3 linked regions of the Homo sapiens genome follow. The protein of the gene in region 1 purifies or fractionates together with the protein of each later gene. This does not show direct contact. Each region holds a gene or a part of one and is shown in the gene's direction. Other genes may lie near its edges. The genes, in order: ATG4C, TOR1AIP1 and PLXDC2.

Region 1 (3,658 bases):
TAACTGGAAGGATTGTTGCACCCTTCACCGAGGTAGAGAACATCGAAAGAGGACCAGGTTTGGGAAACATGCTTTGTTTATTAGTATTTTTTGTTGTGGTAGCAGTGTTTAAGGTTAATTTCTTAGTTATTTTTACCCTTTTGTGTCATTGTTGTAGTTTTGTATATTTGAGTAATACTATGCCTAAAATAGGTTTTTTTGGTATCATTTTTTCTTGATTGAGCAGGGGTGGGGTTCTACATGAAAGCATCTGGAAATATGTTGGTCTCTGTTTTGAATCTATCTGTAATATATTAAACCATGTATATGAATAGGTAACTGAATAATGCAGTTACATGCCATCTTTATTTTCACTTGAGATTTGGTAGTAAACTGGCATCTGGTTAAATTCTAACTTCATTCATTTGGTACATACATAAATATACATGCATTAGGGAAAAATACATACTTGTGATTTTTCTCTGAAATGCTTCATTCATGTAATTTTTGATAGATATTGAACCCAAACAGTAGTGATTTATAGTTTATTGTTTAAATTTTACATTTCTTAGTAAAGTGGTAGAGTGTATAGAGCAAAGAGACTTTGGTGTCAGACTGCCTGGATTCATGGTCTCTATTTGCTGTATACTAGCAGTATGACCTTGAAGAAGTTATACAGCTTTTCCAAGCCTTTTTTTTTTTAAATTTATAAGATGAGGATAATAATAGTGCCAGCCTTATAGAATTGTTGTGAGAATTAAATGAAATGATATATATACATAGGTTAATAAAATACTTGGTACAGATTTTAAGTGTTTATTATCATTATTATAATAGTGATACTGGGTTCAAGATCATCTTGACTCCTGTGACACCATTTTAATTTTAGGATACCTTGTAACTAATAAAACTCAATTTGAGAAAAAAAATTTATTTGGTATTTAGATTTGGAGAAAATATATAAAATAGTTTTGCTTATTCACTATTGTCCCAGATACACCAGCACATAACATCTTTCACAGAGTTCTGAGATTATGTGTAGTTTACAGCTGTGATAGAAAACTTATGGTGATTAGTTTGTGATTACTTATTGTTTGTTAGGATTATTACCTTTATTTTTAGCCAAACCTTTTCGAAGTTTGAACTTGCTTTTAGCTCTTATTGAATAGGGTGAAGAGTAGTTAGGCTTTATGAAGTCTGATCAGCTGCTCTAAAATCAACCTAACTTCTACTTTTTCCCTTATTTTTTTCTTTTTACTTTCAAACCTGTAAAAACATTGAAATGGTAGTATGACAAATACCTGTACATCCTTTTACCTAGATTCACTAGTTGTTAACATAGTGCCTCTTTTGCTCTCATTCCTTGCTGTTAGACAAGTGCTGTTTCTCTCTCTATAAATACACACACACACACACACACACACACACACCTTTTTTTCTTGCTGAACTATTTGAAAGTAAGGTGGCAACGTGACACTTTACCCCCAAATAATTCATCATGCATCTCCTAAGAACTAGCACATTCTCTTATATAACTATAATGCCATTAGCATATCCAAATAATTTAACCTTGATATGATAATATTGTCTAATATGCAGTCCATATTCAACAATTAGATTTTTCCAAATATCCCAGTAATGTCATTATACCATTACAAAAATACCGAATCCAATTAAAGACATTAATTGTATTTAGTACTTATATGTCTATTTTATCTAGAACAGTCTTTATCATTTCTTTCTTTTTTTGTCTTCAGGTAGAATGCCTCACAAAATTGATTTATCTGATTTTTTCCTCACAATGAGTTTCAGATTGAAGAGTTGTGGGTTTTTCTTTTTTTTTCTTTTTTCTTTTTTTTACTATTACATGGGTGATGTTTTGAACTTTCCATTTAATCATATTAGGATTAACATGATCGTTTATTCCATTATTGGTGATTAAGTTTGATCACTTAGTTTAGCCAGATTTTTATATTCCGAAAGTATGTTTTCCCTTTTGTATTTAGTAATCTGTAGGGGTGATAAATTGAGGTCATGTGGATATTCTGTTTTGCAGGTTTTGTTTTCCTATCCAGTGATTTTAGTAGCCATTGATAAAAGCATTGGTGGTTGCCAAATAGTGATTTCCCACTTCTGTCATTCCTACATGTATTTGCTGGCTCTCTTCTCTAAATAAGAGCTTTCTCTTTTTTATTTTAGTATCACTATGTACCCAAGTATCCTTTTTTTCAAAATCTATGCAGTGCGTTATAATTTGCTACCATCATTCCTTTTGGTGATGAAATTATCTCAAATCTGGTCAGTAGTAGATCCTTCAAGCTGGTTCCCATGAACTTTGGATATGTCCACATTGGTGTTTGAGCACTTTCTTACTCCTATTTGCACAATAAGATGTTCCAGCCTCACCTTGTAAATTTCCTGCTCAATACATGGAATCAGCCATTTTACCACAGAGTCCTGGTTTATTTTAGTGGAAAATGATTCTTAGAAACCAAGATCTGGGCCGGGCGTGGTGGCTCATGCCTGTAATCCCAGCACTTTGGGAGGCCGAGGCGGGTGGATCATGAGGTCAGGAGATCGGGACCATCCTGGCTAACACGGTGAAACCCCATCTCTACTAAAAAATAAAAAAACAAATGAGCCGGGCGTGGTGGCGGGCGCCTGTAGTCCCAGTTACTAGGGAGGCTGAGGCAGGAGAATGGCGTAAACCCGGGAGGCGGAGCTTGGAGTGATCCGAGTTCGCGCCACTGCACTCCAGCCTGGGCGACAGAGCGAGACTCCGTCTCAAAAAAAAAGAAATAAAAGAAATGAAGATCTGGGTATTGAATATGCTCTTTGCTACTGGGGTGTCATTGGTTCTAGACCCTTTAAATGGACACACATATACACTTTTTTTTTTTTTGAGACAGTGTCTTGCTCTTGTTGCCCAGGCTGGAGTGCAATGGCGGATCTTGGCTCACCGCAACCTCTGCCTCCTGGGTTCAAGCGATTCTCCTGCCTCAGCCTCCCGAGTAGCTGGGATCACAGATATGTGCCACCACACCCAGCTAGTTTTGTATTTTTAGTAGAGACAGAGTTTCTCCATGTTTGTCAGGCTGGTCTCGAACTCCGGACCTCCGGTAATCCACCCGCCTCGGCCTCCCAAAGTGCTGGGATTACAGGCGTGAGCCACTGTACCCGGCCAACATATACATTTTTTAAGAAATCATGAGTTCATAGGATACCTTCAATTCAAATTCAACACTGCAGAGTTCTCATCACTTCCTTCCAATTCCTGTTTATATCTCTGTTTTCCCAAAGAGAGAATTCTGATTCTCAATTATATCACTATTTTTACTCATCTAACCTATCCTACAACACACATAAAATAGTTTTGGAATTACTAGACTGACTGATACCGCTTCCAGCAACAGATTTACCAAGTAAAGATTTCTTTGCCATTTTATGTTCTTAGAATATATCCCACTAAAGGTATATATAGTCAAAATAGGTGTTCAAAGTTATTTGAATTATTTTTTCTGTGTGATTATGTTATGAATGTAAAATATAGTTAGGTTCCTACTAAATTACTTTTTAATATACTCTTTGTAAAATCAGTTATCTGTAAAACTACTAAAGTGACATAATTTAAAACTTTGTAATATATAGTTATAGAGAACTCTAGAACAGTTATATCAGC
Region 2 (3,658 bases), about 120 Mb from region 1:
ACAGATGAATGAAACAAAACATAATAGAATCCAAATTTTGATAAATATTTGGTTTTAGAACATGTTATGTGAGGTACTTGGAGAAAACATACTTTTATAGGTGGTTTTCTAGACTAAAATTAACATTTTAATAGGATCGGCTTCTCCGCTATCCCTATGCCATTGAACTATAGATGGTCTAAAATAAACCCTGGCCCACATTAATGTTTTTATTTAAAATTAATTTGCATTTCTTCAACACAAGGTTAAATAGAATGAGCGTATTGAATCTCAGGATGTTAACCCTAAAATTAAAATATTCCATAAATAATCCACAATGAGGGTCAGTCACAAATGGAATAGATAATTGAGTTGGTACCATAATACAGATTTTGGTTCTTAATTGAGCAATTTAGAAGAATTTTATTTAGTATTTCTTTCCTTCCTACAGCTACGGTTTGCTGAGAAAAAATGCAAATTTCTCCATCAAGACTATAAATTTTATATGGCAGGAAACTTGTCTCTAGTTCACTATCATCACTAGTTCGCAACAGTTGTCACTTAGAAAGCTTGTCTCTACTTCTCTAGCGTAAATAAAAGCTCTGTAAACCTTTGTTGAATAAATAAGGGATGATCATGTAATAAAGCTAGTATGTTTCACATTTTATATATTTTTAAATGTTTTCTCTTCCTATATTAGCAGTGAGTGAAGATCTTGTAATCAGGTTACGTCGACCCCCTCTAAGATACCCAAGATATGGTAAGAGATTGTTTGTCTGTTGGTTTACCTTTGTTATAAATACAGTTTTATTTTTAAATATGGTTGTACATGTATTCATATGATTCAGAACTTAAAAGTTACTGTAAATATACATTAAAAAATCTCCCTGTCCCCTCTGTCATTCAGCCAGCCAGTCTCTCTTCATCAAAAGCAACCAATGTTGTCAGTTTATATTTTTTGGAGATTTACAGAAATTCATGGATGAAATTATCTTGTCCTTTTTATAATACAAATTTTGGCTTTATAAACTCTCATTTCTGTCTTTTTTTTTTTTTTTAATTTGAGACAAGATCTCGCTCTGTCATCCAGGCTGGAGTGCAGTGGCACAACCAGGGCTGACTGCAGTCTCAATCTCTCTGGCTCAAGCAGTCCTCCTGCCTTAGCCTGCCAAGTAGCTGAGACTATGCATCCACCACCACGCCTGGCTGATTTTTGTATCTTTTGTAGAGATGGGGTTTTGCCATGTTACCCACATGATCTCAAACGCCTGGGTAAGTGATCCACCCACCTCAGCCTCCCAGAGTGCTGGGATTACAGGCATGAGCCACGGCACCTGGCTTACTTTTCTGCACTTTCTTGTTTATTTTTACTTAACATATATACAGAGATATTTCTATATTCATATATAAAAAGCTTCCTTTTTTAAAGAGATTGTTTCTTATATATTCCTGTGATTCTTTATGATGATTTTAAACTATGGTCAGGGACTTTATTCTTCCAGTATACTGCTAACAAAAAATTCAAGCTGGAGCTCTGTGGCACAGAACGACAAAATGTCCCTCCCTCAGTTATCTTTTTGACTAAAACGATTAAAAGTATTGCCCTGAAATTGATTTCATGACTATGAAGAAAACTAGTAAAGACACTCCAAGCAGTCTACTTTTACTTCATTTTCCTTGTTTTTTTGGCTCTTAAAGATGCTTTATCATGGGAACTAAAAAGGAAATGTATTTATCTTTATATTAGGCTTCTGTACCTTCCCATTCTCTTTATCAAAGAATGATGTTGATTTATTTCGATAGATAGTTGACTATCCTTTTAAGTATTCCAGTGGTAAAGATCTACTAAGGTTTTGTTAATGAACCTGTGGTAAAGAACCATATGATGCATTTCCTTTTCAACCCTAATCATTCTCTTGCTATGTCTCTTGCAGATTCGACATACAAAACAAATAGAAATACTAAAATGAGTGAATTATGTTCGTTTATTTCTATTCTTTTTTTTTTCCAGGCAGGGTCTCACTCTCACCCAGGCTGGAGTGCGGTGGCGTGATCTTGGCTCACTGCAGCCTCCTCCTCCTATTGTAGTCCCAGCTACTCTGGAGGCTCAACTGAGCCTCCTACTTCAGCCTCTGGAGTAGCTGGAACTACAGTCATGCATCACCATGCCTGGCTGATTCCTGTGTTTTTTATAGAGATGGGGTTTCACCATGTTGCCCAGGCTAGTCTCGAATTCCTGGGCTCTAGCAATCCACCCGCTTTGGCCTCCCAAAGTGCTGGGATTATTGGCATGCACAACTGCGCCCAACCCTATCTCTAATTCTTACAAGGTCTCTTTGAGGGTCCAGATTAATAGAATACAAGAGTATATATATCTAGTCATTGGCTTGAGAATACTAATTTATTATGTCAGTTTGTGGGGACCCAGTCCCTATGACTAGGACCTCCCATAAACAGCCTTGGTTTTTGTTGTCTATAATTATGCCTATATTATTGCTTAAATTCATATAAAAACATGTAATCAATTTAGTCCTGCTAGTCTTCATTAAATTCACACTATTAGGAAAAAGGAGATAACAACTTACCAATTAAGGTTTTTCTCTTGATTTATTTTTTGTTTTTGTTTTTCTGAGACAGAGCCTTGCTCTGTCACCCAGGCTGTAGTACCGTGGTGCGATCTCGGCTCACTGCAACGTCTGCCTCCCAGGTTCAAGCAATTCTCCTGCCTCAGCCTCCCAAGTAGCTGGGATTACAGGTGCCCACCACCACGCCCAGCTACTTGTTTTGTATTTTTAGTAGAGACAGGGTTTCACCATGTTGGCCAGGCTGGTTTCAAACTCCCTGACCTTGTGATCTACCCCACTTGGCCTCCCAAAGTGCTGGGATTACAGGCATGAGCCACCACGCCCGGCCTTTCTCCTTGATTTTTATTTTTATTTTTTATTTTTATTTATTTATTTATTTTTATTTTCTCGAGACAGGCTCTTGCTCTATCACCGAGGCTGGAGTGCAATGGCGTGATCTTGGCCCACTGCAACTTCTGCCTCCCTGGTTCAAGTGATTCTCCTGCCTCAGCCTTTCAAGCAGCTGGGATTACAGATGACCACCATGACACCCAGCTAATTTTTGTATATTTAGTAGAGATGGGGTTTCACCATGTTGGTCAGGCTGGTCTCGAACTCCTGACCTCAAGCAATCCACCTGCCTCGGCCTCCCAGAGTTTTGGGATTGTAGGCGTGAGCCACCACACCTGGCCCTTTCTTCATTTAGAAAGTGAATTCGATACGTTGTTCACGGCGAGTTCAGTGTCCTTTGCTGTAATACGTTCGTTGAACGGGTTTTAATTCATTTCAGTGTCTGCCTGGCTATAGGACATGACATACCATGATTTGTGGTTTTAAATGAATCTACATTGAATGTTGTTAGACTTAGTTTTTTTTACATTTTAATTATTTTCTAAATTTGAAGATGAGCCAAAAGGGAAACGCTTCATTTTTCTTTATAAATCATTGTACCTTCCTCTAATTCATCTTTCACTTAAGTTCAGGCCACTTCTTTAGAGACTTAAAAAAGCTTTTTAGGCTGGGTGTGGTGGCTCACGCCTATAATCCCAGCACTTTGGGAGGCTGAGGTGGGCAGATCACCTGAGGTCAGGAGTTCAAGACCAGCCTGGCTGGCA
Region 3 (3,658 bases), on another chromosome or scaffold:
ATTTCAAGTTCTAGCCATTGCGGGGTCTTTGTGGTGTTTTCAATTTCTCCTCTCTCCACCCCTGCCCCCATCTGTGGCCATCTAAGTTAGCAATACAATTTATTTTGGCCATTTAAAATTTTTCTGCCTTTGTTTTATTTCTTCCCAAATATATTTGAAAATGAATGATCTATATAGCTGATTTTCTGACCACATATATAATTGCAATTTTTATTTGCTCTTCAAACTATTACAACATTTTTGTCCTTATAAGGTTTTTTGGGCAGATAATGCGAGGTCTGTGGTGTTACCTTTTATATACTCCTATTACCTTATGTTTGTGAAGCATTTTACATTTTACAGAGCACTTTGATTCATCTCCCTATTTGTTCATTTATTTAACTGTTCAGTTCACTGAAATATTTATTGAACACCTACTGGAACCAAGTGACTGTGCTAGTAACTTGTGATATACAGTAGTGAGAGTCCAGGCATGTAACCGATCATTATAATACAATAACATCCCTAAACCAGACTTTACAAGTAGATAGGATCAACAATACTCTATCAATTTTCAACTCCAATTTTCTATTCTACTTAAAATGGGAACTAGAAACTGTTTGCCTGAAGAATGTGTCTGAAACATAATATATCACTGCATGTCTGTGCTGTAGACCTGTTAATTTTATCTGTGAGAAAAAAAGTTACTCAAAATTCTCCCTGACCTAAGAATACTTTCTAGTTCACTGCAGTCTTACTGACCAGATGCAACAGTTGAAGTTTGATTTCTCGACCCAATATTTCTATTGGGTTTTGAATTATTAATATCACTGTTTTGAGGTATTCAGAAACACCAGTGTATCAAAAAAGCATTTGCACTTTAGGTGTGTGTGGTGGTTATGTCATTTATTAGACCATCCCAGACATAAGACAATCAGGGAAATCAGAAAACTCCAGCCTCAAATGTGTCTATAATTTCCTGTTCTACCATTGTCATATCATAACATGGTATTACTTCTTAAGGTTTTGATTAAGTTGATCTAGCCTCAACTTAAATTGTAATACATCTGCCTAATTATTGTCTGGAATAACTTTTCAACCATCCAATGCCCACTGCTCTCACAATGATTATTGTAGAGAAGTAAAATGGTAATTATTCAAGTAAAGTCACATAATTTCTGGAGTCAGTTTTTCATAACAAGTTTATGGAATACATCATCATTGGCTTCTTCATAATATATTTATTATGAGTGACCAAATTTTGCCTGGAGGAGCAAAATGCTCAAAACTTGTTATTATAGGTTAATTTCCAGCTCACTGTTGACACTGAAAGATTCTGTGTTACTTTAAACCCAGGATAAAAGGCTGGAAAAAAAATTAAATGTAAGTCATAAACTAGTACTCAGCTTTTCCTAGTTTCTAAGGCTTATTAACATTTGCAAATTACTCAATAAATGTCTTTCATAATGGAATAACATAAAAGCTTTTGATTTGGCAGATAGTGATATTTTATTTATTTTCATTCTGGTTGAAAAAAATCTCAGTGGCTTCTCTTCATTCCACGAGAATTTTGATTTTTAACAGCAGTCTCTCTTTTTCTCAGCATTGCAAATATATATGTATATATACATTCATGACCAAAGTATCGCTTACTGACCATGCAGCTGTAAACCTTCTGTGCCTATCAAACAAATACATAGCATGAAACTAATTTTAGAAGTTTCATGGGGGAATTTTAGGGGAAAGTATAAACCTAAGAGTGAGTGAATGGAGATGATTCATGGAAAAAAAAATAAAAATCTAAATGTGCTATTAGGCAGAGTTATTAACTTCTTTTAGTTGTTGTTTGAGATGGGGTTTTGCTCTTGTTACCCAGGCTGGAGTGCAATGGCGTGATCTCGTCTCACTGCAACCTCCGCCTCCCAGGTTCAAGCGATTCTCCTGCCTCAGCCGCCCAAGTAGCTGGGATTACAGGCATATGCCACTACAGCCGGCTAATTTTGTATTTTTAGTAGAGACGGGGTTTCTCCATGCTGGTCAGGCTGGTCCCCAGCTCCCGACCTCAGGTGATCCGCCCACCTCCGCCTCCCAAAGTGCTGGAATTACAGGCCTGAGCCACCGTGCCTGGCCGAGTTATTAACTTCTTAAGAGCAATGTGCTAATAAATACTCATTGATGACCAGCTCAAATTTAGGTCATTCAGACATCCAGACACTGGGGCACATATTCTGCAAGCAATGCTGAGACCCCTGACATAGAGAAAGCAAAGGATATGCCTATGATTAGTCTAAAATGCAGCCATCACCCCCCATACCTCTTCTATGGCATTCATCCTAACATCATGGAGGCCTTTGTCCTAGAGAATTATGTGACTTGCCCTAGAGAATTAGTGAATGACCAAAAAGAGACTTTCCATTTATCTTCCTTTGACTTAAAAGGCATGAAAATAAGGCAAAAAAATCAATAAAATAATTTTCCTGAGGAAAGGTTAAGAGATGGCACTTTCCTTTCCGGGCCCAGAGCTGGATTTCTCTGAGATTTGACCATCTCAGGACTCAGACAGACTCCAGTGCTATTTTCTGGACATTTGTGGTGAAGCCTCAGCCACCATGTTCAAGGTGGTTTGAATGAAAACATACTCAGATTGTCACATTTATAGCAGGGAAATAAAAACTCAAATTAGGCATCCTGCAGCAGGCTACTCTGAAAATAACATTAGGCAACATCAGAGCTTCACTTGCAAAGAAATGTTAAAATCATTTTAGGGAAATCAGTGAAGTCTCTTTAGAAACAGACATCTTGTGTATGGCGTAACCCAGTCTTGGGGCCCTCACGGAGAAGAGGGGGAAGTCTTTTCATTGATTGGTCAAAACAAATCTCTCATTTGCCTGATTTGAAGCATTTCAACAGTGCCTGGAGAGTACATTATTTTCAGGGGAAAAAAAGGAGAGAGTCTTTTTTATATGCCAGCTGGGATCATGGGAACTTCGAATGCCAGGAATTTACTACTGTTTCTGGTAATTCTGTGTGTAGTCATTTGAAATGTTGAAGTGTGAAAAGAGAAGAAATTGGGCACTTCTTGCGGCGGGGGAGGGGGGGGGGGCGGTGGCTTTCCAGATTTTATGCCAGTTGCACCAGCATGCAGAATATTTGTAATGCATTTCAAAGTGGATATAATGGCACCCTTTGTCAGAATCACAAAGCTCACTGCGGCACTGCTACAAGAGGACACTGAGGAAAATCTGGCCCTATGAACCTAGTCAACCCCAAGCAAAAAGAATGACTATGTGTGTGAGTGCAGCACATGGCCAGTTCGTTTCTCACTGTTTTGGAAAGCCCTGTGTGCCAAACCAAGGACGTGTCTTTCAGGGAAAGGTTAATTTTCCGAAGTTTATTAAAATAGAACTTGGAAAACCAAGCATTTTGAATTTATTCCAGTCCTCTGGGCATCATTCCTATTTCTTCTGCCATGTCAAGGAGAAATTCCAAGCCTGCATTCTGTCATGCTAAAATAACCAGCCCATACTTCTCGGTGACCTTCTGTTGAACGTACCTGAGCCTGCAAATGTAAAAATGATTGTATCTGAATCTGCACTAATGGTGTCTGAGAGCAAAAAGAGTGTGACCTCTATTGGAAACCTTTGTTCAAATTCAATAATTCAGAGATGCTACATACTTC

What was found.
Region 2: the proteins of ATG4C (region 1) and TOR1AIP1 purify together in Homo sapiens (affinity purification with mass spectrometry; one large-scale study listed by BioGRID and IntAct). This does not show direct contact.
Region 3: the proteins of ATG4C (region 1) and PLXDC2 purify together in Homo sapiens (affinity purification with mass spectrometry; one large-scale study listed by BioGRID and IntAct). This does not show direct contact.

Annotation. Positions count from the first base shown.
Region 1 is NC_000001.11:62,787,052-62,790,709, forward strand, and holds part of ATG4C (cysteine protease ATG4C), read left to right. Parts: intron 1-3,658. UniProt on the Homo sapiens protein: Cysteine protease that plays a key role in autophagy by mediating both proteolytic activation and delipidation of ATG8 family proteins.
Region 2 is NC_000001.11:179,888,631-179,892,288, forward strand, and holds part of TOR1AIP1 (torsin-1A-interacting protein 1), read left to right. Parts: intron 1-679; coding exon of another isoform or gene 680-682; coding exon 683-739; intron 740-3,658. UniProt on the Homo sapiens protein: Required for nuclear membrane integrity. Induces TOR1A and TOR1B ATPase activity and is required for their location on the nuclear membrane. Binds to A- and B-type lamins. Possible role in membrane attachment and assembly of the nuclear lamina.
Region 3 is NC_000010.11:20,284,915-20,288,572, forward strand, and holds part of PLXDC2 (plexin domain-containing protein 2 isoform 1 precursor), read left to right. Parts: 3' UTR 1-3,658. UniProt on the Homo sapiens protein: May play a role in tumor angiogenesis.